Homo sapiens: one gene and its partners. The protein of the gene in region 2 interacts with the protein of the main gene of each other region in a biochemical or structural test. Each region holds a gene or a part of one and is shown on either strand. Other genes may lie near its edges. The genes, in order: SPHK1, BIRC3, CFLAR and HAX1.

Region 1 (6,912 bases), on a different chromosome or scaffold from region 2:
CCCCCTTCCCCGGTCCTTGCAACCCCCTAGGCAGTAAAGTACCATAAAAAGGGAAAAACCGGAGTGGTGGCTCATGCCTATAACCCCAGCACTTTGGGAGGCCGAGGCAGGCGGATCACTTGAGGTCAGGAGTTTGAGACCAGCTTGGCCAACATGTGAAACACAAACTCTACTAAAAATACAAAAATTAGCTAGGTGCAGTGGCTCACACTTGTAATCACAGCTATTCGGGAGGCTGAGGCAAGAGTATTGCTTGAAACCGGGAGGCAGAGGTTGCAGTGAGCCAAGATCGCGCCACTGCACTCCAGCCTCAGCCTGGGCAACAGAGCGAGACTCTGTCTCAAAAAAAAAAAAAGGGAAAGAAGTTGAGGTCAAGGAAGACCTTGAGGCTATGCAATTAGGGAGCTGAAATCTCCTAGGGAAGGTAGCTTCAGGGAAGGGTGAGATGGCAGGAATCCTCTCCTCATAAAAGCAAGTAATTTGCCATCTGGCAGCCTTGACTCCAAGTTTCTGGAGAGCTGGGACCAGGCCAGGTGAATGCCTGCTTTCTTTCTCGGGAAAAGAAAAAAGGGGGTTCTCAGGTGTGTCTCCCTGGGGAGGCTGCCCACAAGGAAGGGGAGGCTGGGGAAGTTAGAAAAAGTCTCCCACCTGTGAAGCAGATTACCTGCAAGCCAAGCTCTGGGTTGGTGATCAAATCAGACCTCTCTGCCGGCCCAGGCCTGTTCCCAGGCCCACGGTGGGCCTTGCTGAGCACAGCGGCTGCTCAGCTGTTTCCAGACTCAGGATGAAGCCTGGGGAGGGCTTGGAGCTGCTTCCTCTTTCTTTTTTTTTTTGAGATGGAGTTTCGCCCTGTCACCCAGGCTGGAGTGCAATGGGACGATCTCAGCTCACCACAACCTCTGCCTCCTGGGTGCAAGCAATTCTCCTGCCTCAGCCTCCCAAGTAGCTGGGACTACAGGTATGCGCCACCACACCCGGTGTAGAGACGGGGTTTGAGACGGGTTTCTCCACGTTGGTCAGGCTGGTCTCCAACCCCCGATCTCAGGTGATCCACCCACGTCGGCCTCCCAAAGTGCTAGGATTACAGGAGTGAGCCACTGCGCCCGGCCTGCTGCTTCCTCCTCCTCAGGGAGACGCCACAGCTCTGCGGCAAGCAATCCACCAGGCACCAGATCCCCAGATACCTGCCCTTCAGGGAGAAATAGCCTGGGATACAGAGAGGCCCAGAGGGGAGCTCTGGCTGGACTTGGCTTCTCAGCGTGGGGTCTGGGTTCACAGGTTTGCTTCTCTGCTTTGTGGGGAACTGGTTGGAGGCTTGTGCAAGCCTCTTCACCTCTCAGGGTTTCAGGCCCCCCCAACTCCTTCCCGCCTTGTCCTTTTTTCTTTTTTAAAAAAGGAAGTAAAGTACAGTGGGAAACGGGCCAAGCTGGCAGCTTGAGAGATCCAAGTGCCCGCCCCCCGACCCGCAACCGTGGGAAGGGGAACCATCTTGCTCTTGGCCAATCCTGCCTCTCTGAGCAGGGATGCAGCTGGGGGAGTTTCTGGAGATAGGATCAAATTCTTTAGAAAGGGAGAAGGGGAAAGGGGTCTGGAGAAAGGCAGCCTGGGTTGGGGGAAGTGAATGACAAGAATGAGGGGGGCAAAGGCCTTGGAGGTGAGGGGGGCAGGGGGTTAGGCGCCAGGGAGGACAGAGGACCCATTGTGCGGCCTGGAACCGGGGCCAGAGGGCTTTGCCCTTCGCCTCCCTCCCGCGGGGCCTTCCAGAGCCAGGAGGGGAGCTGGGGCCCGGAGGCGTTGGATAAAGAGCCCGTGCCCCGCCTCCCCTTGCCAACTCAGTTTGCAGTCAACCCCGCCCCCGCCCGCTCCGCGGACTCAAGGCTGGTGGTAGTGGGCCTGGAGGCGCAGGATCCGACCTTTCTGGGGCCCCAGGAGGAAAAAAAAAGGGGGGACCCTGAACCAGGTGGGCTTTATCACCACGAACTCACAGTGCTTCCCTGTGCCTCAGTTTCCCCTCTTCAGACTCTATGGCTAATGACAGAGCTTTTCAGATTTGGTGGAAATGCTCTCCGGGGCGGGGAGCAGACGGGGAAGGCTGCCCCAGCTAATCTCCGCAGCCAGTACCCTCGAAGGCTGAGATCTCGGGGAGCACAGCCTCCGATTCGCGTTTTCTAGGCACCAAAGTCCCTCGCTGGAGGAAGAGGAGGGGAAGAAGGCAGAGGAGAGGGGAGGGGCGGACGGATCTGGTCCTGGGCTCCCGCGCGGAGCCCCCTCCTCCCACAGCCGCCGCTCGCGTCCCCGCAGCGCATGACCGCGGCACTGCGGCTGCAGGGCTCTCTCCCCCGCCCGCGCCGGATTCCTGGAGCAAGGGGGTGGGGGGCTCGGAGGTGCAGGACCCATCATTCCGACACGCGCCGCGACGCCAGGAGTCGGGGATGACGCCCCTGCTCCCTCCCCTCGTTCCTGTTTCTCGGAGTTTTTCGACCCCTGAGCGCGTCGCTGAGTCACCTTCCCGGAACGCGCTCGGGACGCTCTGGACCCAGCGGGGACTGCCCGGGGGCCGCGCAAGGCGAAGGCGCACCCGCCGATACGCGCGCGGAGCTGCGGCCCCAGGGACCCCGCGTCCCAGCCAGTGCCCCCCGACCCGCCCGGGGACTCTCGGGTCCCGCCCGTCTGACCCCCCAAGTGTTGGGAAACGGGGCCGAGCTGCCTGGGTCCTCCGGAAGAGAAGACACCGCGGAGGCGTGCCGGAGTTCAGGGCGCCGCCCGGCTAATTGGCTGCGTGCTCCTCCTGGACCTGCCTCTTCTCGACTTTAAGAAGCGATGAGAGAGGTGTGTGGGGGCGGGTGGGGCCGGCGGGGGCGCGCGAGCCCCGCAGCCTCCCGCAGGGGCTTGGTTTCTCCTAACTCTGGCCCTACCTGGGCAGGTCACCAATGGGCCTTGGCAACTTCTTCCTCCGTCTCCGCCGTAACCCCCCAGGGATCTAACTCGAGGTGCTCGCGGACACGTTCTGTGGCTTGCCGCGATAAGTGTATCACAAACACACTGACAAACGCGTCCCTACTGGCCTCCAAAGAAGTGACAACTTCTGAGCGCGTTTCCGGCGCCCCTTCTTCACGCTGAGCCAGAGGGGGCGGGGGGCACGTACCACATGCTTGGCTTTCCAATCCCGACGGGGGCCCCCAGGCCCATCTACACTGTCAAGCCTCCTCTCCGGCTCGGAGCCCCCGGCCTGTCGCCTGCTCTACCCGGGACAGCGCGCTAGGCGGCCTCAGGCTCGGTAGCCCAGCTGCAGCGTCGGGAAGTTAAAAATAACCTCCGTGGGAGCGCGGGGGAGGAAGAAAGAGGGAAGCTGGTGGGCGGCGGGCGAGACGCCCCGGCCTGGAGAGGCGCCCCGGGTGGCGTGCGGGCCTCGAATTTCGGGTGGGCTAGGGCAGAGCGCGCAAAAGGGGCGCTGCATCCCGGCGCCGACAGCACCCGCGGGGGCGAGGTCGTGGCGTCGAGGTGAAACCAAGGGTCCCCCGGGAGAGCGGAGCCGCGCGCGCCCGGCGCTCGCTCCGACACGAGTTCGCGCGGAGCCCGCGCCTCCGTCTGCGCTGCGCGGTCGCTTTCGCGCGCCCCAGACACTGCGCTCGCGGCCGGGCCCGGGACTCCGCGCCTCGCGGCCTGCCGCCTCAGCTCACCCGGCCAGGTCGCGGCGCCGCCTTCTAGCCAGACGCCTAGGACGAGCGGCGGGGGCGCGCTTGCCGCTTCCTAGGACCCGGGCGGGAACCAGCTCGTGGCCCGGCCGTGGGCGCGGGCCGTGCCGGAGGCGGCGCGCTGAGGCCGGAGGCGGGCAGAGGCCGAGGCCGCGCCGGGCTCAGGTTCCACCCCCGGGAGCGCGGGGCGGAGCCAGGCCGGCGCCGAGGCTCAGTGCCCTCCCCGCTCCGCGGCGCCGGCTGCGAAGTTGAGCGAAAAGTTTGAGGCCGGAGGGAGCGAGGCCGGGGAGTCCGCTCCAGCGGGGCGCTCCAGTCCCTCAGACGTGGGCTGAGCTTGGGACGAGCTGCGTTCCGCCCCAGGCCACTGTAGGGAACGGCGGTGGCGCCTCCCCAGCAAACCGGACCGACTGGGTAGGGCCGCCCACCCTGCCTTCGCGCCGCTCGTGGCTCCTGTGCGGCCCGCCCTCGCGGGGCCCCGGGAACTGGGCCACTTGTCGCTTGGGCGAGAGCAGGCGGCAGCTGGTGGCCCGGTTCGGGCTTGGCTTTGGCGCGACCCGGGAGCGGCTCCCACGAGCGCCGCGCGCGTCGCAACGGAGCGGGGCCCTGAGAAGCGCGCGCCGCGGCTCCCACCGCTCTGGAGCTCCGGGCAGGGGACACGGCAACCTGGATGGCTGGGGCAGGGATCCTCTCCCAGAACTTCGTGCCCAGCAATGTCCGCTCAAGTTCTGGGATTTTTACGCAGCTGGACTCCCCTCCCCCTGGCAGCCCCGAGGGGTGAGGAGCTAGTCCGTCGGAGGGAGCCACGGGGCTCTGACTCATCCGTCGGGCCGGAACCGAACCCCAAGCCCCAGGGAGAAAGCCCCGGAGCAGGCGCCCTTCTCAGGGATTGTAGGCTTAGTCACACGGCGGGGGCGCCCTCGGAGGCACCGGACCTCAGCTCTCTGGACTTCCCGGGAACCTGGCTCCCCGCGCGTGGTCCCGGGATTTAGTCGGGCGCTCCCCACCTCTGGCAGCTGCGGCCCCGGACTCCGCCAGCGCTGTCTTCTCTCCCTCAGGTCCAGCCGCCGCAGGGAATGACGCCGGTGCTCCTGCAGCCACGGCTCCGGGCGGGGAAGGCGAGCCCCACAGCCGGCCCTGCGACGCCCGCCTGGGCAGCACCGATAAGGAGCTGAAGGCAGGAGCCGCCGCCACGGGCAGCGCCCCCACAGCGCCAGGGACCCCCTGGCAGCGGGAGCCGCGGGTCGAGGTTATGGATCCAGGTTTGTGGGGTTCCTGCTGGGAAGGGCTGTAGGGGGATTCCTGTTCCTCGCCAGGAATGATGGAACGCCCAGCTGGACGAAAGGGGCTGTGGACGATCGGGAGAAACATTATCCCTCACGAGGCCAGAAGCCGGCCGAATCTGAGCCAAGGAAGGGGGTGGCAGGGGCGCCGCGTCCCCACCCCAGGTCTCCCAGCAAAGGCCGCTCCTCTGGCCAGGGTCAATTACCGGGGTGTTTCGGGCACCAAGTTCCCACACTAGTGCCCCATTGTTACCCGTGGCCCCCTAGTGGTCGGTTGCGGACGTGGCCTCTTTGGTTTTGTTTTCTCAGCGGGCGGCCCCCGGGGCGTGCTCCCGCGGCCCTGCCGCGTGCTGGTGCTGCTGAACCCGCGCGGCGGCAAGGGCAAGGCCTTGCAGCTCTTCCGGAGTCACGTGCAGCCCCTTTTGGCTGAGGCTGAAATCTCCTTCACGCTGATGCTCACTGGTGAGTACCTCTCGGAGGGGGTTTCGGGAGCATCCCCTGGCAGGGGACCCCCCCAGTCCTGATAGCTGCCGGTCTCCCTGCAGAGCGGCGGAACCACGCGCGGGAGCTGGTGCGGTCGGAGGAGCTGGGCCGCTGGGACGCTCTGGTGGTCATGTCTGGAGACGGGCTGATGCACGAGGTGAGGACCGCACTGCGCGGCTAGGCCTGGGGCTTGGCGCGGTGCGTCCCAGGCTGAGGCCACGTGTGCTTCAACAGGTGGTGAACGGGCTCATGGAGCGGCCTGACTGGGAGACCGCCATCCAGAAGCCCCTGTGTAGCCTCCCAGCAGGCTCTGGCAACGCGCTGGCAGCTTCCTTGAACCATTATGCTGGGTGAGAGCCCAGGGCCAGAGTAGGCCTGTTTCCCGTCAGTGCTCCTCTACCGCGGGGGTTTTCTTGTCTAAGCTCCCATAGGCTGAGATCATTTCCATTTCCCCTTCTCCCTTAGTCCTGGGGCCCTCTCCTGGTGACCCCAGCTGACTGCTTCCATTTGCTCCATCTGTCACCTACCAGTCCTGCCAACTCCCCAGGGACCACATGGCGCTTTGCCAGCTCCCACTCCCCGGGAGGAGGAAGCGGGGGATACATGGGGGCTCCTGTCCTGCCTTATCTGACTTTTTCCCCCTGCAGCTATGAGCAGGTCACCAATGAAGACCTCCTGACCAACTGCACGCTATTGCTGTGCCGCCGGCTGCTGTCACCCATGAACCTGCTGTCTCTGCACACGGCTTCGGGGCTGCGCCTCTTCTCTGTGCTCAGCCTGGCCTGGGGCTTCATTGCTGATGTGGACCTAGAGAGTGAGAAGTATCGGCGTCTGGGGGAGATGCGCTTCACTCTGGGCACCTTCCTGCGTCTGGCAGCCCTGCGCACCTACCGCGGCCGACTGGCCTACCTCCCTGTAGGAAGAGTGGGTTCCAAGACACCTGCCTCCCCCGTTGTGGTCCAGCAGGGCCCGGTAGATGCACACCTTGTGCCACTGGAGGAGCCAGTGCCCTCTCACTGGACAGTGGTGCCCGACGAGGACTTTGTGCTAGTCCTGGCACTGCTGCACTCGCACCTGGGCAGTGAGATGTTTGCTGCACCCATGGGCCGCTGTGCAGCTGGCGTCATGCATCTGTTCTACGTGCGGGCGGGAGTGTCTCGTGCCATGCTGCTGCGCCTCTTCCTGGCCATGGAGAAGGGCAGGCATATGGAGTATGAATGCCCCTACTTGGTATATGTGCCCGTGGTCGCCTTCCGCTTGGAGCCCAAGGATGGGAAAGGTGTGTTTGCAGTGGATGGGGAATTGATGGTTAGCGAGGCCGTGCAGGGCCAGGTGCACCCAAACTACTTCTGGATGGTCAGCGGTTGCGTGGAGCCCCCGCCCAGCTGGAAGCCCCAGCAGATGCCACCGCCAGAAGAGCCCTTATGACCCCTGGGCCGCGCTGTGCCTTAGTG
Region 2 (5,448 bases):
TTTAATTATTTATTAAGACATGGTCTTACTATGTTGCCCAGACTGGTCTTGAGCTCCTAGACTCAAACGATCCACCTGCCTTGGCCTCCTAAAGTTCTGGGATTACAGGTGTGAACCACTGCATCTGGTCTTGAATTTTCTTAGTAACATACATAGTGTCTACTATGATGTGCAAGACAACAAAAGGAGGTGACATCTTCTCCAATAGGAGCTGAATATGGTTCAATCACATTGCCTGTGACCACAAAGGAACTTAATGGCTAATGGTATCAAGCGATATAAGGAAATTAAGAGAAAGGTTGGAATGGAAGCTATAATGAGCATGGCTGAAGTATGAAATTAAGCCTGCTGCAAAGTCCTGTATGATCACACTTAATATATTGAGGTTTAAACCCAATGACTGAAGACCACGTTGGCTGGTAGGTGGGGTTGGAGGCAATCAAATGGATTAATGCATGTCAAGCACCTGAAAACATCTGACATTTGGTCAGCAAATAGATCTACCATTATTATCTATGGTGATTTATTTTTTCCAAAACAAAATGTCAAAATAACACTTAGGGAAATAACATATTTGAATAAATGGGTTGGTTATAATAGCTATTTATTACCATAATGAGAAATGAACAAAAGTTTTACAGTGAGATGACAAAGTTCAAATATTATCTGTAGTATACAAGAACTAGATAAAAAAAAAAACACATGGTGCAAAAAGGGTGCCTACTATTTAAATACCCTATACCTGAGTTACAAATCACCTAAGCACAATTACAAATAATTCAGCCTAGCACCCATGCAGGACACTGGCTAGTACATGGGTAGCCAGCAGAGCCTCTTAGCAGAGGCAAAATCAATTGCATTTCAAGGAAATAAGTCTCCCAGCATCAGAATGCAGAGATGGATTCTTTCCTCCCCTCACTTGGTCCCTAATTGTTCTCTTTACAACACTAGCAGATGTTGGGGCTCAGAAAACCCAAAGTGAAGGCCTCAGAAGCAAAGTTTTTCTCTGATGTTATCCTGCCCTCCTGTCTCAGCCTCATTCTCCCTGAAGGCAAGCCACAGAAACTTGAATTCCTCTTCCCCAAGGTAGGTCATAGAAACTGGAACCATCTTTCCACAATGCCAGACTTACATCTTAAAGATAGTACTCTAATCTTTCCTCACCTAACTATGTAAGAGCTGGCCATAAATAAATTCTCTGACCTACCTTGCTTGATAGCAGGTTATAATATCCCCATCCCATACAGGCCCTGCCCTATATCCAGGAGGAAGGAATGCTGCACAGAGACCAAGAATAATCTGAACAGACAGGCCTTGCTGGGTCCCCAACCTGTGTCTATTCCCATTAGATCATATCCTTTTTTTCCAATCACTATTCTTCAGGGCTGTCCATTCATTATCAAACCTAAGCATAAAAATGCACAGTTTCCCCTGTAATTTTGGATCTTCATTACGAAGGCTCCCCGGTGATGTAAATCTGTGATTAAATAAATTTGTTAAGTTTTTCTCTTGTTAACCTGTCTTTTGTTATAGGATTGTCAGCTGTGACCCTTATGAAGGGGTCTTTCCCTTCTGCCCTTACAGAGCCATCTGCCCCTATACAGACATCTAGAACTGGTTTAGATGACTAGCCTTTGCCTGCCTTCCCCTGAGTATTCCCTATTACAGTCTTACTTCTGCTCTTGAAGACCTAATACCTCTATAAGAAGCAAAGGACAGAGTTATGACTCGGACGTGTTGAGTACCAATAACATAATGCAGAGGGGGACATTTTGTTGCACTGACAATATGAAACAGATTTATTTACCAGAACAACCTGTTGGTCCCAAGCATTGCTAACCAGTGTACTTTCTAAGTTTCAGAATTAATACCAAAGAGATAAGAATAAAACTCAGACCTTCTTCCAATAGGTGGGGCTGGCATGAGACTTCTTGAATGAATCAATAGAGAAGTGAATAAACAAACTTACTAAAGGGACTGTTTGATTCTTGTCTCAGGCATTCCATAATAGATTTTATGATGTGTTGACCCCGTGTTCTACAAGTGTCAATGAAGAAGCATCTTATGGGAAGGAGTATAAACTGTAGTTCAATATTTGAGAGGCTTTAAGAAGGTATGGAAAGAGTCTGGGAGTGACTAAACTATCCAATGTCATTGAAATAAAGCAATGAAGAATAAGAGTAATTTTTGTTGCTTTATTAAATTTTTTCTCACAGAATTCTTTATAAAAACACCATGTCCCTAAAATGTCATTCAACATATATGCACACCTTCGATGTATAGGACACTGATCAAAAAAGACAGAGAAATGTGTCCCTGGTGTTTTGTTTTTGTTCTGTTTGTTTTTAAAGGCAGGGTCTCAGTATGCTGCCCAGGATGGATTCAAACTCCTGGGCTCAAGTAATTCTCTTGCCTCAGCCTGGGACTACAGGCACATACCACCACACCTGGCTTCATGTTCCCGGTATTAGTACAATGCCAAAATATTTAAAATTCTTAAAGGTTAACTCAAATATCTTAAGTTTTACTTCACTTACAATTTCAATAATGCTGAAATTTTGATTGAATATTGTGTTTGTAGTGCTACCTCTTTTTCGTTCATAAGAACAAAAGCCTATCATTCTCTTAGTTTCTAAAAAATATATGTTCATATGGTTTAGATACATATATAAATATGTTACACAAAACAATGTTTTTTGAGTTGTAAATAAATAAAAATTTTAAGGAAACCAAATTAGGATAAAAGTTAAAGTTATAATACATTTAATAAATTAATTCTAAAGTTTAGACGATGTTTTGGTTCTTCTTCATGAAAGAAATGTACGAACTGTACCCTTGATTGTACTCCTACAAATAGGACACTTTCTTAAAGAAGGAGCACAATCTTTGCATACTACTAGATGACCACAAGGAATAAACACTATGGACACTTCTTTGTCCATACACACTTTACATGTTCTTTCTTCTTGTAGTCTCCGCAATTGTTCTTCCACTGGTAGATCTAGAAAGAGGAAAGAATTTTTAATAAAAGGCAGTTTGCTTCTTCAGTGAAAAACTAAGAAAATAAAGACAATGTTCTCTATTGATTTAAAATATTAGTACTATTACCTGAAACATCTTCTGTGGGAATATATTTTATGTCCTGTTGCACTAAGGGAGAAAAAGAAAAAGCATTACTATGACAAATAAGGTTAATATTTAGCTATGGAATCTATTTTAAAAATGAACACTTTAGACTATAGCCAAATACTCATTTCAAGGCAACAGAAGTCTTTAATCTTTTTATGTAACTAATATCTATAAATTAGATTGATTTTTTTTTGAGACAGAGTCTGTCACCCAAGCTGGAGTGCAGTGGCACAATCACAGCTCATGGGAGCCTCTATCTCTCAGGCTTAAGCCATCCTCCCACCTCATCCTCTTGAGTAGCTGGGATTACCAGGCATACACCATCACAAATAATTTGTTTTAAAAATTTTTTGTAGTGATGGGGTCTCGCCACGTTGTCCAGTCTGGTCTCAAACTCCTGGGCTCAAGCAATCCACCTGCCTCAGCCTCCCAAGGTGTTAGGATTACAGGCATGAGTCACCACATTCAGCCTGAATTATTTTCAGTAGTCATAAATTATTAATAAGAGCGTATTTTCAATTGACTTAGAAAATTTTTAAAAATAATTTTCTATCACTCACCAAATAAATGCTCATATAACACAGCTTCAGCTTCTTGCAGAGAGTTTCTGAATACAGTGGCTGCAATATTTCCTTTTACTAAAATCGTATCAATCAGTTCTCTTGCTTGTAAAGACGTCTGTGTCTTCTGTTTAATAACATCATGTTCTTGTTCATTAATAATTCCGGCAGTTAGTAGACTATCCAGGATTGGAATTACACAAGTCAAATGTTGAAAAAGTGCCATTCTATTCTTCCGGATTAATAATAAATCATCTTTATAAAAAAGAAAACAAGCATAAACATGTTCAAACTCTGCTCACAAACTTCCTTCCAGTCCTATATATATAGCAGGATAAAAACTATCTTTAATTCGTAATCAGTAAGGCATTGATGTTGATTGCTAGGTTTAGGGGTGTCTCATCTCCTTTGCTTAATAATAATGTTATTATAATTATAATCCAGGGTGCAGTGGCACATGCCTGTAGCACCAGCTACTTGGGAGGCTGAGGTAGGAGGATCACTTGAGCCCTGGAGTCAGAGACCAGACTGGGCAACATAGCAATACCCTGTCTTAAAAAAATATAATAATAATAATAATAATGCTACTTATAGTAAGGACTAACATTTAGTGAGCACTGTGTTAAGAACTTTACATGTATTGATTCATTTCATCTTCACAACAGCTCTTTGAGGTAGGTCCTAATAGCCTCATTTAACAAATGAGAAAATGAAGCTGCAGTGAGGCAATTAAGTTGCCGAAGGACACCACAACTAGCAAAAATCAAACTGAGGTAGTCTGGTGTCATGTACTGTGCTTTCAATCATTTGGCAATACTGCTAAGCCTTTAACCAAATGGAACTTAGAACCCATTAAAATTGACGTTTCAATTCAATCTAGTCAAATTGGGGAAAGACAAAATCAAGAGAATTAAAACAATTTTTTCTTAAAGTGTCATTCTTCCATAAAATTTCTTTTATTATTTATTTATTCATTTTTAAAACAGAGTCTTGCTCTGTCGCCCAGGCTGGAGTGCAGTGGTGCGATCTCAGCTCACTGCAACCTCTGCCTCCCAGGTTAAAGCTATTTTTGTGCCTGAGCCTCCTGAGTAGTTGGGATTACAGGCATGTGCCACTACATCCAGCTAATTTTTTGTAGTTTTAGTAGAGATGAGGTTTCACCATGTTGGCCAGCCTGGTCTCGAACTCCTGGCCTCGAGTGATCCGCCCACTCCGGCCTCCAAAAGTGCTGGGATTACAAGTGTGAGCCATTATGTCCGGCCCATAAAATTTCTTTAAAATTCCATTTTAAGTTGAAATTTTAATTATTTCCAGAAATTAGACATATTGCCATTACCTAAATATTTTATAGTAAGCAGGGAAAGGCAGTAACAGCATTTTGAATAATAAACCCTATTTGTCAACGACTACCTTCTCGTCCTACAAGATATCATCTAATTCTCCTTCAAGACCTAGATTTTGTATCCATTGGTAAAACATTTTATATTTTAAAACTGCAGTTTTATTATCTCTTTGGAATATAACTTATGAATCTAAGTTTATTAATTTTCATATAGCTTACCATAATCCATAAAGCTGTTTCTAAAAAATAACTAATGACAGAGGCTGAGCTATCTGAAGAATTGTTTTGGGAGAGAGGATTGTTAGATTTTAGATACACTGACTTTGTCAAGTGATAGGACTCATAAAAAGAACCATTTAAGAAAGAATAAAAAATGGAAAAAAGAAAACAGCAAAAATCAAAAACAACAACCAGAAA
Region 3 (7,028 bases), on a different chromosome or scaffold from region 2:
TTTTCTTTTATACTTTGGTTTAGAAAGGGGAGGGGGGGGTCTAGTTAAAACAATTTTACAGAAGTAAAGTAGGCAAAAAAGTTAAAAGGATAAATGGTTACAGGAAAGTAAACAGTTCCAGGTGCAGGGGCTTTAAGACTATTACAAGGTGATAGACGCGGGGCTTTGGGCGTTATCAATCTGACGAATTCCTGAGAACTGCGGATATTGCTGGCCACAGTATCTTATCAGTTAATTGCATTCTTGGATGTGCTGGGAGTCAGCTTGCACAAGTTAAGTCCTTGCGGAAGGGCTGCCAGTGAAACAGCCAAGATGGAGTCTGTCTGGCTCTCTTAGCTAAGGGAGAGTCAATTCAGGTGAAAACAAGGCTAAGTGATTAAAGGAAAGGGAGAGTCTAAAAACAGCGTTAGTAAAAACAAGGTTGGGCATTACATGATCACTGGGTCTCCACTGTCAGAGGGTCTTTGAGCTCAGTTCTAGTGGCAGCCTCCTGATCCTCACTTCCCTGGCTGAGGCAAGGTTGTTGCAGCAGCCCCAGGAGTCTTTGTTAGAATCCCACCCCAGAGCTCCTTCCTCCAGTCCTCTCAGCAGTTTTGTTAGTTCCAGTATTAAGTGTAATTTCTACAAAAAATGCCTGGAATATTTCTGTTTCCAGAACCGGATGCTCCTGTTAGCTAGTGTGTGAAAGATAACTCTGACTTGCCTAAGCTTTGTTGATGTTTTGAATAATAATTGGCGATAGTCTCTTGACTTCTGCAAGAGAAATGAAACAGAAATTGGTCTCAAGTTTTAGTTGCTCTTGTGAAGGTCAGGGACAGTTTGTACCAGGGTGTGGGTGTGGAAAAGAAGGGGAGATATAGTCATTAAATTAGAATATGCCTGTGAGGGGAGTTAAGGGGAATTCCTTTAAAATTCTAGAAAACACACACAGGTGCCAATTTTGTCTGGCTAGGGAAAAGTAAACTGCTGAAAACACTTGGGGGGAGAAATGAAGCTAATGGTATCTTGATCAGTCAGGAGGATTGGGTATTTGAAAGCAGGGAAGAAAAATAATTGGACTTGGATATTCCTTTGCCCCTTCATCTGAGTAAGGTGAAAGCAAGTGACTCTTCAGAAGAGGCGAATGGGACACTGAGTCCAGCAGCTCAGGCAGGGTGGAGTTGGTAACTGATGGGCACAAGTCTTTTACTGGGCTCTAAAGAACTCATTCATCTGGGTGTGGTGGCTTACACCTGTAATCTCAGCATTTCGGAAGGCTGAGGTAGGAGAATCACTTGAGCCCAGGAGTTTGAGACCAGCCTGAGAAACACAGTGGGACCCTTTCCCTACAAAAAACTGAAGACCTTATGAGCTTCCCTAGTCTAAGAGTAATTTTTATGTTAATTTCTTGGCTTGGGCTTAAACCCCAACAAAGTGGTGATTATTCGGACCCCAGCCCTACCTCTCCCTAGTATGCTCTCCTTTCTCAAGTACTCACCACCTCTAGCCACAGTGAACTGCCTCCAGCATACACACACGCTGCTATTTTGTTGCATCTGAGTGGGCTGGCTCCACACGGGATCTGTAGTTTCCTTTTGATATTTTCTTTCAATGTGCCAGATGCTACCACTGAGTAATCTAGATTTTGCTGCCAAACTCTACCCCCGTTAGCACAGAGGGAAGACAGTATGCCAGTGCTCTTGCTGAGTGTGCGTGACTGGCAGAAAGCAGTCATGGGTGTGATGGTTGGAAGAAACAAACTGAGCAGATAATGTTTTTTAAAATGATTATCTCATTTTGTTAACTCTTGGTGGCATTGTTATATTGTTGATACTTATGAATTACAAAAGTTAGATGACTGTAAAAAAATAGAGAATTAAGCATTTCATTTCTAGTAGTTCTGTTTGGTTCTTTTTCAAATATGTCAGTGAATTTGTATAATATCTCATTTCTTAGTCTTGTGTTTAATGATTTTATTTTTGTGTTTTTATAATTCCTTCTACTGCATATATTTTATACTTTAATTTATAATAACAACTGTTGACAAAATTGTGACTATTCATTAATACAGTAGAAAAGAACTTGGCCTCCTTTTCATGGAAGCTGATGATGAGATTAAAGCACTGTTGGCCTGCGAGTGGAGTATAGATTTGGGCTGTCCAGAACACATAAAATTTGTATTTATCTTTCTGATAAAAAAAAGTAAAATAGTCTGAGTGCCAATTTTTCCACTTTCATTGAGCACATTTAATTTTAGTAAATTTAACTTAGCAAATTTAATTTCTCCAGTTATTTACAAATAATCATATTTAAGTGAAGTTGGGATGAATGGGCAAGCCCATTTCAAATTTCTAACCTAATTTTTCCTCTTGTTTTCATATAAAATTTTTCTATTTATGTGTTTTTATTTTAAGATAGCTCAAATCTTTTGTGGACTGATACTGTATGTATATAAATAAATGGATTCAGTGCTTCTTTCACTAAATACAGCTAGATAAATATATAAATATACTTGAACACAAATACAAAGCAACCATTGGCAATTTAGAGTTGGGTTGTGTTTCCACTTATTTTTTGTTAATAAATTTGATTTTAACCTGAAATATTGTCTTGTAGGAACAGATAAAGAACACAAGAGGTGATTTAACATAAGTTTTAGCTGTGAAACTTAGAGTAGATAGGTTAGCAACTTAAATTTTGAAAGAAAATAGGATGAGTTTCAATGGAAGAAATTAAGAACACACCCATTGCATGAGCTCCTTACCCCTCCTACCCAGCCCCCTCCCAGGAGTGAGATCTTTCCCCAGATCCTCTGTAACTTCCAGATGTTCCACTGAGAACATCAGAAGCACTAATGGCAATTGCTGCCATGTAGCAGTGCATTGAGAGTCAGGGCCTCTGGCACCTCCATGGGGCTCAGGGTCTGAAGACGTGATCCAAACCTGACAACTTGGTGGCAGGTTCTGTGAGCATTCATGATGTTGTGAAAAGGGCTTGGGGTCTAGGAGGATGGCAGCAGAGGTTTCTGCCCTCAGGTGTGAGTGAGGGGCTTTTGAAGTAGGAGAGCAACTAGAAAAAAGGAGTGGCACAGGGACAGAAACTTCTTTTCTCCATTGTTTGTTCAAGGCCACGTGGGTGGAGTCATTGAGGTGGAGGTTTAACTCTGTGACATAAGTTTCCCTGATTTAGTCAGGCTGTCTGTCGTTGGGCTTTTCCCACTTCCTTCTACTACGTACTTCTTCCCTATTCCTCCTACTGAGGCCATTAAACCCTTAGTTGTAATTTTCCCTGAACATGCTTTACATTCTGATGAATTCTGAAAAAGAATGTGGGGTTTCCTTGCAGATGAGTTCATCTGTTGTTTCATTTCCTTTACAATGTAGGTTTTCTTCTCTGTCTTTTTGGATTAGTCTGTTTTTGGTTCTGTCTACCAAGGATCCCTTTCTTTAGACTTCTATAGATCCCTTTCTATAGAACTTAATCTACTTAAGTCAGGGAGACCACCCAGAAGGAAAGAGCCCATACTTTCAATCTTAGGCATAAGTTAGCTTGATAAGATTTTCAGAAAAATTCCCTTTTAACCACAGAACTCCCCCACTGGAAAGGATTCTGAAAGAAATGAAGTCAGCCCTCAGAAATGAAGTTGACTGCCTGCTGGCTTTCTGTTGACTGGCCCGGAGCTGTACTGCAAGACCCTTGTGAGCTTCCCTAGTCTAAGAGTAGGATGTCTGCTGAAGTCATCCATCAGGTTGAAGAAGCACTTGATACAGATGAGAAGGAGATGCTGCTCTTTTTGTGCCGGGATGTTGCTATAGATGTGGTTCCACCTAATGTCAGGGACCTTCTGGATATTTTACGGGAAAGAGGTAAGCTGTCTGTCGGGGACTTGGCTGAACTGCTCTACAGAGTGAGGCGATTTGACCTGCTCAAACGTATCTTGAAGATGGACAGAAAAGCTGTGGAGACCCACCTGCTCAGGAACCCTCACCTTGTTTCGGACTATAGGTAATTCATCAACTCTTCCTGAGGCTGGGTGGGTGGGAGGGAGTGAAGTGTCTCAGACTCTACTGAATGGCAGAAACGAGGATAATAAGAAGTGCAGCCACTTTACTGTCTCTGCCCACTTATCCAACTGCCAGATGATGTCACTTCATTCCTGTGAGCCCTTTAAATTCTTGAAACTTGTTTTCTTGCTTTCTTTTTCTTTCTTTCTTTTTTTTTTTTTTTTTTTTTTTTTTGAGACAGAGTCTCACCCTGTTGCCCAGGCTGGAGTGCAGTGGCGTGATCTTGGCTCACTGCAACCTCCGCCTTCTGGGTTCAAGCGATTCTCCTGCCTCAGCCTCCCAAGTACTTGGGACTACAGGCGTGCGCCACCATGCCTGGCTAATTTTTTTTTGTATTTTTAGTGGAGACGGGGTTTCACCATGTTGGCCAGGCTGGTCTTGAACTCCTGACCTCAAGTGATCCACCTGCCTTGGCTTCCCAAAATGCTGGGATAACAGGCATGAGCCATTGCCTCCAGCTGAAACATGCTTTCTCAAAGGAATTGGGATCATATGCAGGTAGAAGGGCAGCTGGTATGTGTTTGCCTGAAGGATAGAATGACAAGACGTGAAGAAAGATAGGAATGACTAAGAGCTAGTCATTCTTGCCAGCCTCTGACAGTGTGAGATCTGCAGCAGTGTTTACTAGTTCATTTTCTGTGAAGTCAGTCCTTGATAATTTGTGGTACAAAGAAAGGAAATAACAAGTCTGACAGTAATCTTCCTACCTTTGTAGAGACTCCATCATCCCTTCTGAATCCCTGTTGGCCCTACCCTGCTGAGGAAGTTTATCAGGGTGGGCTCCCTTCCTGCACTTCCTGCGCTTGGAGACATTGGAGAGCCCACATTGAAAATCTCTTCAGTTAACCACATTTAAGTCCCTTCAGTCCAAAGAGGAAATGGCCACTGGAGTCTGCTTTAGTTCCCACAAGCTTTGGGTTGCTCCTTCCTCCTGTTCACATGTTAATGTCTTTAGAGGTTCAGAGGGGCATGGAAGCTACTGAGAGACTGACTTCCTGGGGAAAGGAAGATAACTTGTAACCTTAAGTTGGTGTTTTCTTTTTTTTTTTGAGACAAAGTCTCGCTCTGCAGCCCAGGCTGGAGTGCAGTGGTGCGATCTTGGCTCACTGTAACCTCTGCTTCTGGGTTCAAGTGATTCTCCTGCCTTAGCCTCCTGAGTAGCTGGGATTACAGGCACGCACCACTATGTCTGGCTAATTATTGTATTTTTACTAGAAACAGGGTTTTGCCATGTTGGCCAGGCTGGTCTTGAACTCTTAGCCTCAAGTGATCTGCCCTCCTTGGCCTCTTAAAGTGCTGGGATTATAGGTGTGAGCCACCATGCCCAGCCGGTGTTTTTTCTCTCGACCACCAGCCTTTTATTATGTTGATAATGTGTATTTGGAGATGATAATTATTATCAAGAACTATACTAAAGAGAGCTGAAAGCAGTGTGGGCTTTGGAAAGTATATGAGATTTGAACTTGGAAAGCCTGTTTTTTTGGTTTTTGTTTTTTTGTTTGTTTGTTTGTTTTTGAGACAGGGTCTTGCTCTGTCATCCAGGCTGGAGTGCAGTGGCATGATCATAGCTCATTGTAGCTGGAAGACCTGTTTCAAGCCTCAGATCTACCAATTATGGGCCAGGCAGGCTGGGCCAATCACTAACCTTGTTGGGCCTCTGTTTTCCTACTTGTAAAGCGAAAAATAATAATACCTGACTTTACAAGGTTGTTGTGAGCATCAGTTGTAATAATTTACTATGTGAAGTACTTTTTAAACTGTGAAGCACTCTACAGATAGAAGGGATTATTATCATTGTTATTATTATTATTTTTTTAATCTTCCACCTATTCAGCCATCAGTTTTAATGTCAGTAATCTTCAGACTTTCCGGGAGGCACCAACTGAGTTTCAGTGAATAGGGCAATCTCTCCATTTCCCATTTCCTTGCTATGATGAGTGGAGATTCTTCAGGCCCTCTGGGAAGGGTTGCGGGGGCAGTTGAAGAGGAGTGCTAGATTTATTTATTCATCTGGTGAGTGGGCTTCATTGTGTATTGGTGCTAAGTGTTTTGGTAAGCTCTAGGACAAAATGAAAAGTCTGCCATCCTCAAGAATCTGAGAGCCTAACTGGGAAAATGGCCTTGATGACAATGTCATGGTAACAATACTAACCACAGGGTGTCCTTAGGAGCCCCAGAAAAGTGTGGTTGTTGGTTCTCAAAGTCTATTTCCTAGGGGGGGAAAAATATATATATATATATATATATATAGTGTTAGCTCCAGCCACCAGTGAGTCAGGAGAGGCTTTCTAGGCAAAGACATCTAAGTTCAGAATCCTTGTGATCCAGATGCCTGTACCCTTTGAGTTCAGAGGTGGGCCAGGGTATCTCAGGTATTTCTTTCCTTTAGCATCTTGCAATTCAAAATATGGTCCTTGAATCAACATCACCTGAGAGCTTGTTAAACAGAGAAGGCTACTTCAAATTCTATTTCTGTCTTTTATGTTAGTCATTTGGGTTCTTAAGTCATTTCACTGTAACCTCTGGGGGAGCTAGGGGATTCTTTAAGGAAGTTTCCATTCTCTGAGTTGTTTTCAGAAACTGTTAGTTGGCAAAGGATGTACCATCTCCTATTAAACGGGCAAGGACAAGTTCCCTTTTCTGAGGTCCCTTAAGATCTCTTCCTGGGGTGATCTAGGCTTGCTGTTTTATGAGGGAGGGACATATTTACACAGGGGCAAGAACTAGTCTTTTAATCCATTGTTGCATAGGGGAGGCGTGGGCACTTGGAGTTGTCTTAGGACTGATGTCTGAATTAACTAAATGAACTTGTCTGGTTTGCAGAGTGCTGATGGCAGAGATTGGTGAGGATTTGGATAAATCTGATGTGTCCTCATTAATTTTCCTCATGAAGGATTACATGGGCCGAGGCAAGATAAGCAAGGAGAAGGTGAGTTTTCTTCTTTTGGTTCATGGCCCCAGGAGCCTATCAGAAGTGGGAGCTAC
Region 4 (6,966 bases), on a different chromosome or scaffold from region 2:
AGGGTCAGGGAGCTTGAGCTCAGGAAAAATCCCAAGACTAGTTTGCTGATCCCTTTTACTCTGTCTCCTCCTGGCCTCCTGGATAGCAGTCCTTTGAGAAACAAGGTTTTCATTCCGGTACTCCTGCTGCTTCCTTCAACTTGCCTTCAGCCCTAGGAAGTGGGGGCCCCATCAATCCGGCCACAGCTGCTGCCTACCCACCTGCCCCCTTTATGCACATTCTGACCCCCCATCAGCAGCCGCATTCTCAGATCCTTCACCATCACCTGCAGCAGGATGGCCAGGTAATAGCCCTTCCCCTTCTCTCCTTTCCCTTCCTCTTCCTTCCTATCCCTTAAAACTGCCTTCCCTTTCCTTTTCTTACCCTTCCTCACCACCACCTTCACCCAATCCCTCCCCAGCGCCAGTCATGGGCACACAGCACATACAGACACAAGCGCACATAACACGAGCGGCCGGCAAAGGAAATCTCAGAGAAGGGCCGGGTTGAAACCTTTTTTGCCCAATTCCTTTGGTGCCCTTCTCCTCCTGTGCCACAGTTGTCCTCATCCCATCAGACCTGGGTCACACCTTCCCTCTTTCCTCTCCCAGCCTTCCCTCTTCCCTGACATTTTAGCTTTCCCTTCTAATGGTGGAGTTCTATTGTCAAAGTTTGTCCCTTTATTTTCCATATATCCTGGTTCTGCCTCAGCTACCATATTTGCAGATGATTCTCTGTTGCCAGCGCCAGCAGGAGGAGCAGGTAATGAAATTGAATGATCATATGCTTGAACCCACTCCTTTTCAGTCCCCATTTCACCTTCACAGCCTCAGGGAACTTGAAAAGACTGCGCGGTCACAAATCGGGATACACAAACACAAACACCTTGCTGAGCTCTCTGGCCTCCCCTTCCTCTCTCCTCCTCCCCTCCCCAACACCCTCTTTATCTTTGTACCCTTCCCCAGCTGTGGAAAACATTCGGTTACCAGAATGGAAAAGATTCTTGGGGCAGCATCTGGAGCCTGAGGCCTCAGACTGCCTCTCATACCTGCCTGAAATGGGCTCACAGATGTGATGTGTGGTAGGGGTGGGGATCTGTGGGGCGATGCAAGTGGCCTCTTGAGAGCTCCATTATAGGTGGCTGGAGCTAGAATAAGGGCTTCCTTCCTCAAAGACAGCTTTCCAAATTGAGGCATTAATGGGGATCAATGGAAATGAAATTGCCTTGTGATCACCCATCTCCAAGAGCAGGGGAGAGAGGGGGTAGTGTGAGAATGTAGAATTGAAAATGAGTAGAACTCACTCACTACCTTGTCTCTAAAGGTATCTTGCCCTCTTCATCTTTTCCCTATTTAAAAGTCAAAAATGCCTTCCTGCTTGTAAGAAAGGGGCTTTAGCAGCTATGCAGACCAAATTTTCTATGGTTCTAATAGTAGTGAGGGGAATGGGAGAGCAAGACAGTTTGCACATCTCCACCTGAAGATGTTACAAATTTGTACCACTAACTAGACACCTTTTTCCTCCTCATGATCCTCCCATTCCCCTGCAGACGGGCAGCGGGCAACGTAGCCAGACCAGCTCCATCCCGCAGAAGCCCCAGACCAACAAGTCTGCCTACAACAGCTACAGCTGGGGGGCCAACTGAGGCCCTGACCCTCTTCTCCCGGTCCCATCTTCTGAGAGGGCTTCTCAGCCTGGAAACTATGGAAACAGCATCAAAGAGAAAGGAATGTGGGGGGTTTCCGCTGCCCCCCACCCCCAGCGGCCCACCCCATGCCTCAGCTTCATGTCTGTCCCATTCCTATACCATCCCCACCCTGTTGTATGTATTATAGGATTTGTATTTTCTCCTTTTTTTTCCCCCTTCCATTCCTTCTCCCCTCTTGCATTCAAGATTATGAAACTTTGCTATGGGCCCTGCACTTCCTTTGCTTCCTCCTGTTCACCCTGGTGGTGTACGGATGAGGCGGGGAGGTGGGACCCCCAAACATATATCAGCCCAACAGCCCTAAGTCTCCTTCTTTATTATTAGGAAAACAACAACAACAACAAACAAAAAAATGGCGTCATGAATATGAACAGCATTGTCAGATGAATTAGTTGAAGTGGTTTTTTTTTTGTTTTTTTTTTTTTTTTGTACTGTGTCCTCAAATTTAATGGATTAATGTGTCTTGTATATATAAAAAGAAAACCTCTACCTTCAGCCTCTGCCTATTCTTGCTCCGTCTAGGACATCCTCAATTTCGTCGATGACCAGCTTGGTGAATAAGTATTACTGTACCAACTGGGCCTCCTCTAGCAGGCCCCTGAAGGCAGTGGAATAAAATGAAATCTTCGCCCTTTAAGAACTCCTGACCTTAATGTGGTAGTAGTATCTTGTCCTTGAGGGGATTTCCTTCCCCTCACCCCTAAGACTTTCACAACCTGGTGACTGGAAAGAACCACCACAAATCTTCATTTCCTCCAGAAACTGCTACATCTACAGCCGATTTCAGGCAGTAAAGGGAGAGGGATAGAGGAGATTGGGTGGAAAATGGAGAGGATCAAGAAGGAGCTGAGACCATTTCAAAGAAAAAAAATGCTTTATAGAGTTTTAAGTATGACTTAGATGGGTCCAGGCAAATAAACTAAAAAGAAGTGAAGGCAACATGTATCGTCTGGCAGAACTAAATCTTGGAGTGGGGTGAGGGATGAAAGACTACATATTGGGTACAGTGTACACTGCTCGGGTGATGGGTGCGCTAAAGTCGCAGAAATCACTAAAGAACTCATCCATGTAACCAAACACCACCTGTACCCCAAAAACGAAATAAAAAAACAAAACCTTGGGGCCCATTCCCCCTAGGAATGGACTACTGTAGTAGTGGCTTCTTGGATGCTTCTCTGTGACATAGCTATACCCAATTCTTTGAAAAAGAATCTAGAGCAAGGTCTGGCTTGGGGATGGGGTACAGGGAGAGACAGGTCTCGGAGAGGTTTTGAACAAAACACTTTTAAAAAGGAATGAGGACAGGCGCTTTGGGAGGCTGGGTTGGGCGGATCACCTTAGGTCAGGAGTTCGAGACCAGCCTGGTCAACATGGTGAAACCCCGTTTCTACAAAAAATACAAAAGTAGCCGGGCGTGGAGGCGCATGACTGTAATCCCAGCTACTCGGGAGGCTGAGACAGGAGAGAACCTGGGAGGCGAAGGTTGCAGTGAGCCGACATGGTGCCACTGCACTCCAGCCTGGGAAACATGAGAGAAAACTCTGTCTCAAAAAAAAAAAAAAAAAAAAAAAAAAAAAGATACCAAAGGGATATTTCTTTATAACCCCCAATTTGTTCCTTCTCAGGACTCAACTAGCTTCCCTTCCCTTGCTTTCTTAAAAATCCTTTGTCTTGCTGGTTGCAGAGCCTGCTTAGAAAAAAGAATTCTATATAGTTATAACAAACTCCCTAGTAGCTAGAGAGGTGGAGGAAGTTAAGTCCATGCGTCTCTTATGTCTTGATCTCTTCTCTGGGAAATTCAATACTAGAAGGAGCTTGGAAAAGCATTTTGTTCATCCCTCTAACAGCAGACATCGCCCAGGTCAGTCAAAAAGAACGCCCGAGTAAGGAGCGAGGTGGCTTCTGCTGTGAGGCTGGCCAGCCCCGCGGGTGGGGTGGTTGAGGGACGCCCTCAAGCCGGTCCATTTGTGCGGCTGGGCTGCCCTCTGGCGGCTTTATCCGGGTGCCATCCAGAGTCAAACCCTCGAAATCGCTTTTCGTACTGAGTTGGTCTGCAGAAAGAAGAACAGATTTAGGAGGAAGGCGGTCATAGGAAACTGAAAGTGCGTCACGCCCACTCCCGTCACGGAAACTGGTCTCTGAAAGGTGGGGTAAAGATAAAGCCTTTCAAATTTGAGGAAGACCTTCGGTCCCGCCTCCATTTCACGTCCGGCTTACCGTCGTTTACGACAGTGTCAGGATCGCGGGCTTGCTTTCCGGTAGCGTGGGCTGACGCCTCGCTCAATTTCTCACAGGGCTGCGCAGGTTTCCCCCGTCTGCGAATGGACCACTGGAGGGGTTCAAAGGTTCGCGTCCCAGTACGGGAATGAGCCTCTTTGATCTCTTCCGGGGCTTTTTCGGCTTTCCTGGACCTCGGAGGTGAGAGTAGGTCCGGCTCGGACAAGGGTGGGGGTCGTCTGAGGGGAGCTTGACCCCTACGTCTTATTTTTGGAAAAACATCCTCTGTCCCACTCCTTCAACTCCTGCAGAGAGGACAGAAGTCGCAACATTGAACACTCACCCCGCCACAGTAACCAAGGCGGTCATTAAGAGGAGAAACAGCAAACTAAGCCTTTCTCCAACCTGGGGTGATGCAACAGGGACCCGGGCGGGGAAGACCGTGAGGGTCTGGGGAATAAGACAGTGAGCAAGTGAGCAGGACCTTGGGAGAGAGAGGAGGGACTGGGGCACACTGAAGAAAAACTGGGGGAAGGTGTATGAAGGGAGCTGCGAGCTGAGGTCTGACTTTGATTAAAAAAAAAAAAAAAAAAAAAGAACTGTCAGCCATTGTATTAATGTTTTGATGTGGCAGCCAGTCCTCCGACCCTCTCCCTAGCTTCCCAGACCCCTTGCTCTTGTCCCACTTTGCCACCCATGAGTTGATTTAATGGCTTAAATAGTGCTGAAATATTGGTGGCCAATCTGCCTCCACTCTCAGCCACAGAGATCCCTTTTTTGGAGGGATGACTCGAGATGAAGATGATGATGAGGAAGAAGAAGAAGAAGGGGGCTCATGGGGCCGTGGGAACCCAAGGTTCCATAGTCCTCAGCACCCCCCTGAGGAATTTGGCTTCGGCTTCAGCTTCAGCCCAGGAGGAGGGATACGTTTCCACGATAACTTCGGCTTTGATGACCTAGTACGAGATTTCAATAGCATCTTCAGCGATATGGGGGCCTGGACCTTGCCTTCCCATCCTCCTGGTGTGTGGCTTTCCCTAAGGGGCAACCTGTGGTTTCTGGTGGGTTGGTGGGTGAAATAAAGAGCCTGCAGGGAGTAGCTGGGGGATGGGAAGTGTGAGAAGACTGATGATTTCAGAGAGATTAATAGAGCCCAAGTCCTTTCCCATCCCAGCAAACACCTGCCACCTTTCTGCAGAACTTCCAGGTCCTGAGTCAGAGACACCTGGTGAGAGACTACGGGAGGGACAGACACTTCGGGACTCAATGCTTAAGTATCCAGATAGTCACCAGCCCAGGATCTTTGGGGGGGTCTTGGAGAGTGATGCAAGAAGTGAATCCCCCCAACCAGCACCAGACTGGGGCTCCCAGAGGCCATTTCATAGGGTGAGTATCCCATCTGGTCCTGAAGTGAGAGCTTGTGAGAGACCACTAATAAAGTGCAAAGACTGGCTAGGTGCGGTGGCTCACGCCTGTAATCCCAGCACTTTGGGAGGCCGAGGTGGGCAGATCACCAGAGGTCAGGAGTTGGAGACCAGCCTGGTCAACATGGTGAAACCCCGTGTCTACTAAAAATACAAAAAATTAGCCGGGCATGGTGGCAGGTGCCTGTAATGCCAGCTACTCAGGAGGCTGAGGCAGGAGAATTGGTTGAACCCAGGAGGTGGAGACTCCATCTCAAAAATTGTTTGAGACCCAGCCTTGCTCTGTTGCCCAGGCTGTAGTGCCGTGGCACAATCTCAGCTCACTGCAACCTCCAATTCCCAGGTTCAAGTGATTCTCCTGCCTCAGCCTCCTGAGTAGCTGGGATTACAGTCGCCTGCCAAACGCCCAGCTAATTTTTGTGTTTTTAGTAGAGATGGCGTTTCACCGTGTTGGCCAGGCTGCTTTTGAGCTCCTGACCTCAGGTGATCCACCCACCTCGGCCTCCCAAAGTGCTGGAATTACAAGTGTGAGCCATCATGCCTGGCCAAAGATTGCAATTCTTGTTTGAATCTGATAGCCTTGGGTTGGAATCCTAAGCCCTCCATTTAGTGTTTTCTGTTTTCTATATTAAGCTTGTGGGATTTTCTTTGGGGGGAGATGGGTGTTCTGTTTCTTTTAAAAAACAAAAACAAAAAAACACCACTGGTCTAGATAATTCTTGGATAAGGCAGGATTGTGCACAGAGGATAGGAATATATCAGTTCAGGAAGTCTTTCTGGTAGAAGGATACATAAAACAGCCAGGAAGGAGTGTGTAAATAAGGCTATTCTGAATGGAATTATCTCTTCTGTGGAAGGGGGTTTTGGAGCTCGGGAGTAGTTTGAGGTCTATGACCTTTCAAATTTCAGATTGGAAGGAGTCTTTTCACTTACTATGGTTTCTTCTGCAGTTTGATGATGTATGGCCTATGGACCCCCATCCTAGAACCAGAGAGGACAATGGTAAGTCTGGAGGAAGGGGAAGTTTACCAGCCTTTTGTTATTCTTCTGAAGTTCTGTGTGTTCTCCCTCCCTGAAGTTTCTTCCTGTACACTTGTCTCCTTTTTTCCTTTGGACTCTTTCTCTCCTGCTTCTTCATCTCTCTGCTCTTCCAGATCTTGATTCCCAGGTTTCCCAGGAGGGTCTTGGCCCGGTTCTACAGCCCCAGCCCAAATCCTATTTCAAGAGCATCTCTGTGACCAAGATCACTAAACCAGATGGGGTGAGTTGAAAGAAAGAGGTAAAGGAAAGTATGGCCAGGGAACGAATGCCCTGAAACAGGGATCTGTGTAAAGAAACTGCTGAGCATAACCTTTAGTAACATTCGGAATATGGTGGGGACTTCTCTTTGTAGATAGTGGAGGAGCGCCGGACTGTGGTGGACAGTGAGGGCCGGACAGAGACTACAGTAACCCGACACGAAGCAGATAGCAGTCCTAGGGGTGGTAAGTTAAAAGACAAAGGGGTTCATCTCAAGATTCCTTGGGGAAGGGAAATCTTACTCTTCTACCCTTGTCCTTTGCTTCTGCCTAGTCTCTTTCATTTAGCCTATTTACGTGTATGACTTTCTTCCTTAGATCCAGAATCACCAAGACCTC

What was found.
Region 1: the proteins of BIRC3 (region 2) and SPHK1 form a complex in vitro, tested with the Homo sapiens proteins (one study listed by BioGRID).
Region 3: the proteins of BIRC3 (region 2) and CFLAR form a complex in vitro, tested with the Homo sapiens proteins (one study listed by BioGRID).
Region 4: the proteins of BIRC3 (region 2) and HAX1 form a complex in vitro, tested with the Homo sapiens proteins (one study listed by BioGRID).

Annotation. Positions count from the first base shown.
Region 1 is NC_000017.11:76,380,701-76,387,612, forward strand, and holds the start of SPHK1 (sphingosine kinase 1), read left to right. Parts: upstream 1-3,908; 5' UTR 3,909-4,106; exon of another isoform or gene 4,107-4,405; coding exon of another isoform or gene 4,406-4,469; intron 4,470-4,577; exon of another isoform or gene 4,578-4,750; coding exon of another isoform or gene 4,751-4,944; coding exon 4,945-4,954; intron 4,955-5,242; coding exon of another isoform or gene 5,243-5,284; coding exon 5,285-5,437; intron 5,438-5,520; coding exon 5,521-5,615; intron 5,616-5,692; coding exon 5,693-5,808; intron 5,809-6,105; coding exon 6,106-6,886; 3' UTR 6,887-6,912. UniProt on the Homo sapiens protein: Catalyzes the phosphorylation of sphingosine to form sphingosine 1-phosphate (SPP), a lipid mediator with both intra- and extracellular functions.
Region 2 is NC_000011.10:102,334,462-102,339,909, reverse strand, and holds the end of BIRC3 (baculoviral IAP repeat-containing protein 3), read right to left. Parts: intron 3,945-5,448; coding exon 3,690-3,944; intron 3,151-3,689; coding exon 3,109-3,150; intron 3,002-3,108; coding exon 2,808-3,001; 3' UTR 507-2,807; downstream 1-506. UniProt on the Homo sapiens protein: Multi-functional protein which regulates not only caspases and apoptosis, but also modulates inflammatory signaling and immunity, mitogenic kinase signaling and cell proliferation, as well as cell invasion and metastasis.
Region 3 is NC_000002.12:201,126,163-201,133,190, forward strand, and holds part of CFLAR (CASP8 and FADD-like apoptosis regulator), read left to right. Parts: exon of another isoform or gene 1-3,358; intron 3,359-3,566; 5' UTR 3,567-3,703; coding exon 3,704-3,984; intron 3,985-6,618; exon of another isoform or gene 6,619-6,866; coding exon 6,867-6,972; intron 6,973-7,028. UniProt on the Homo sapiens protein: Apoptosis regulator protein which may function as a crucial link between cell survival and cell death pathways in mammalian cells. Acts as an inhibitor of TNFRSF6 mediated apoptosis.
Region 4 is NC_000001.11:154,268,671-154,275,636, forward strand, and holds the start of HAX1 (HCLS1-associated protein X-1), read left to right. Parts: upstream 1-3,958; 5' UTR 3,959-4,053; coding exon 4,054-4,106; intron 4,107-4,665; coding exon 4,666-4,928; intron 4,929-5,103; coding exon 5,104-5,291; intron 5,292-6,279; coding exon 6,280-6,331; intron 6,332-6,483; coding exon 6,484-6,590; intron 6,591-6,722; coding exon 6,723-6,813; intron 6,814-6,945; coding exon 6,946-6,966. Other genes in the region: UBAP2L (ubiquitin-associated protein 2-like), read left to right, coding at 87-284, 692-742, 1,530-1,625. UniProt on the Homo sapiens protein: Recruits the Arp2/3 complex to the cell cortex and regulates reorganization of the cortical actin cytoskeleton via its interaction with KCNC3 and the Arp2/3 complex. Slows down the rate of inactivation of KCNC3 channels. Promotes GNA13-mediated cell migration.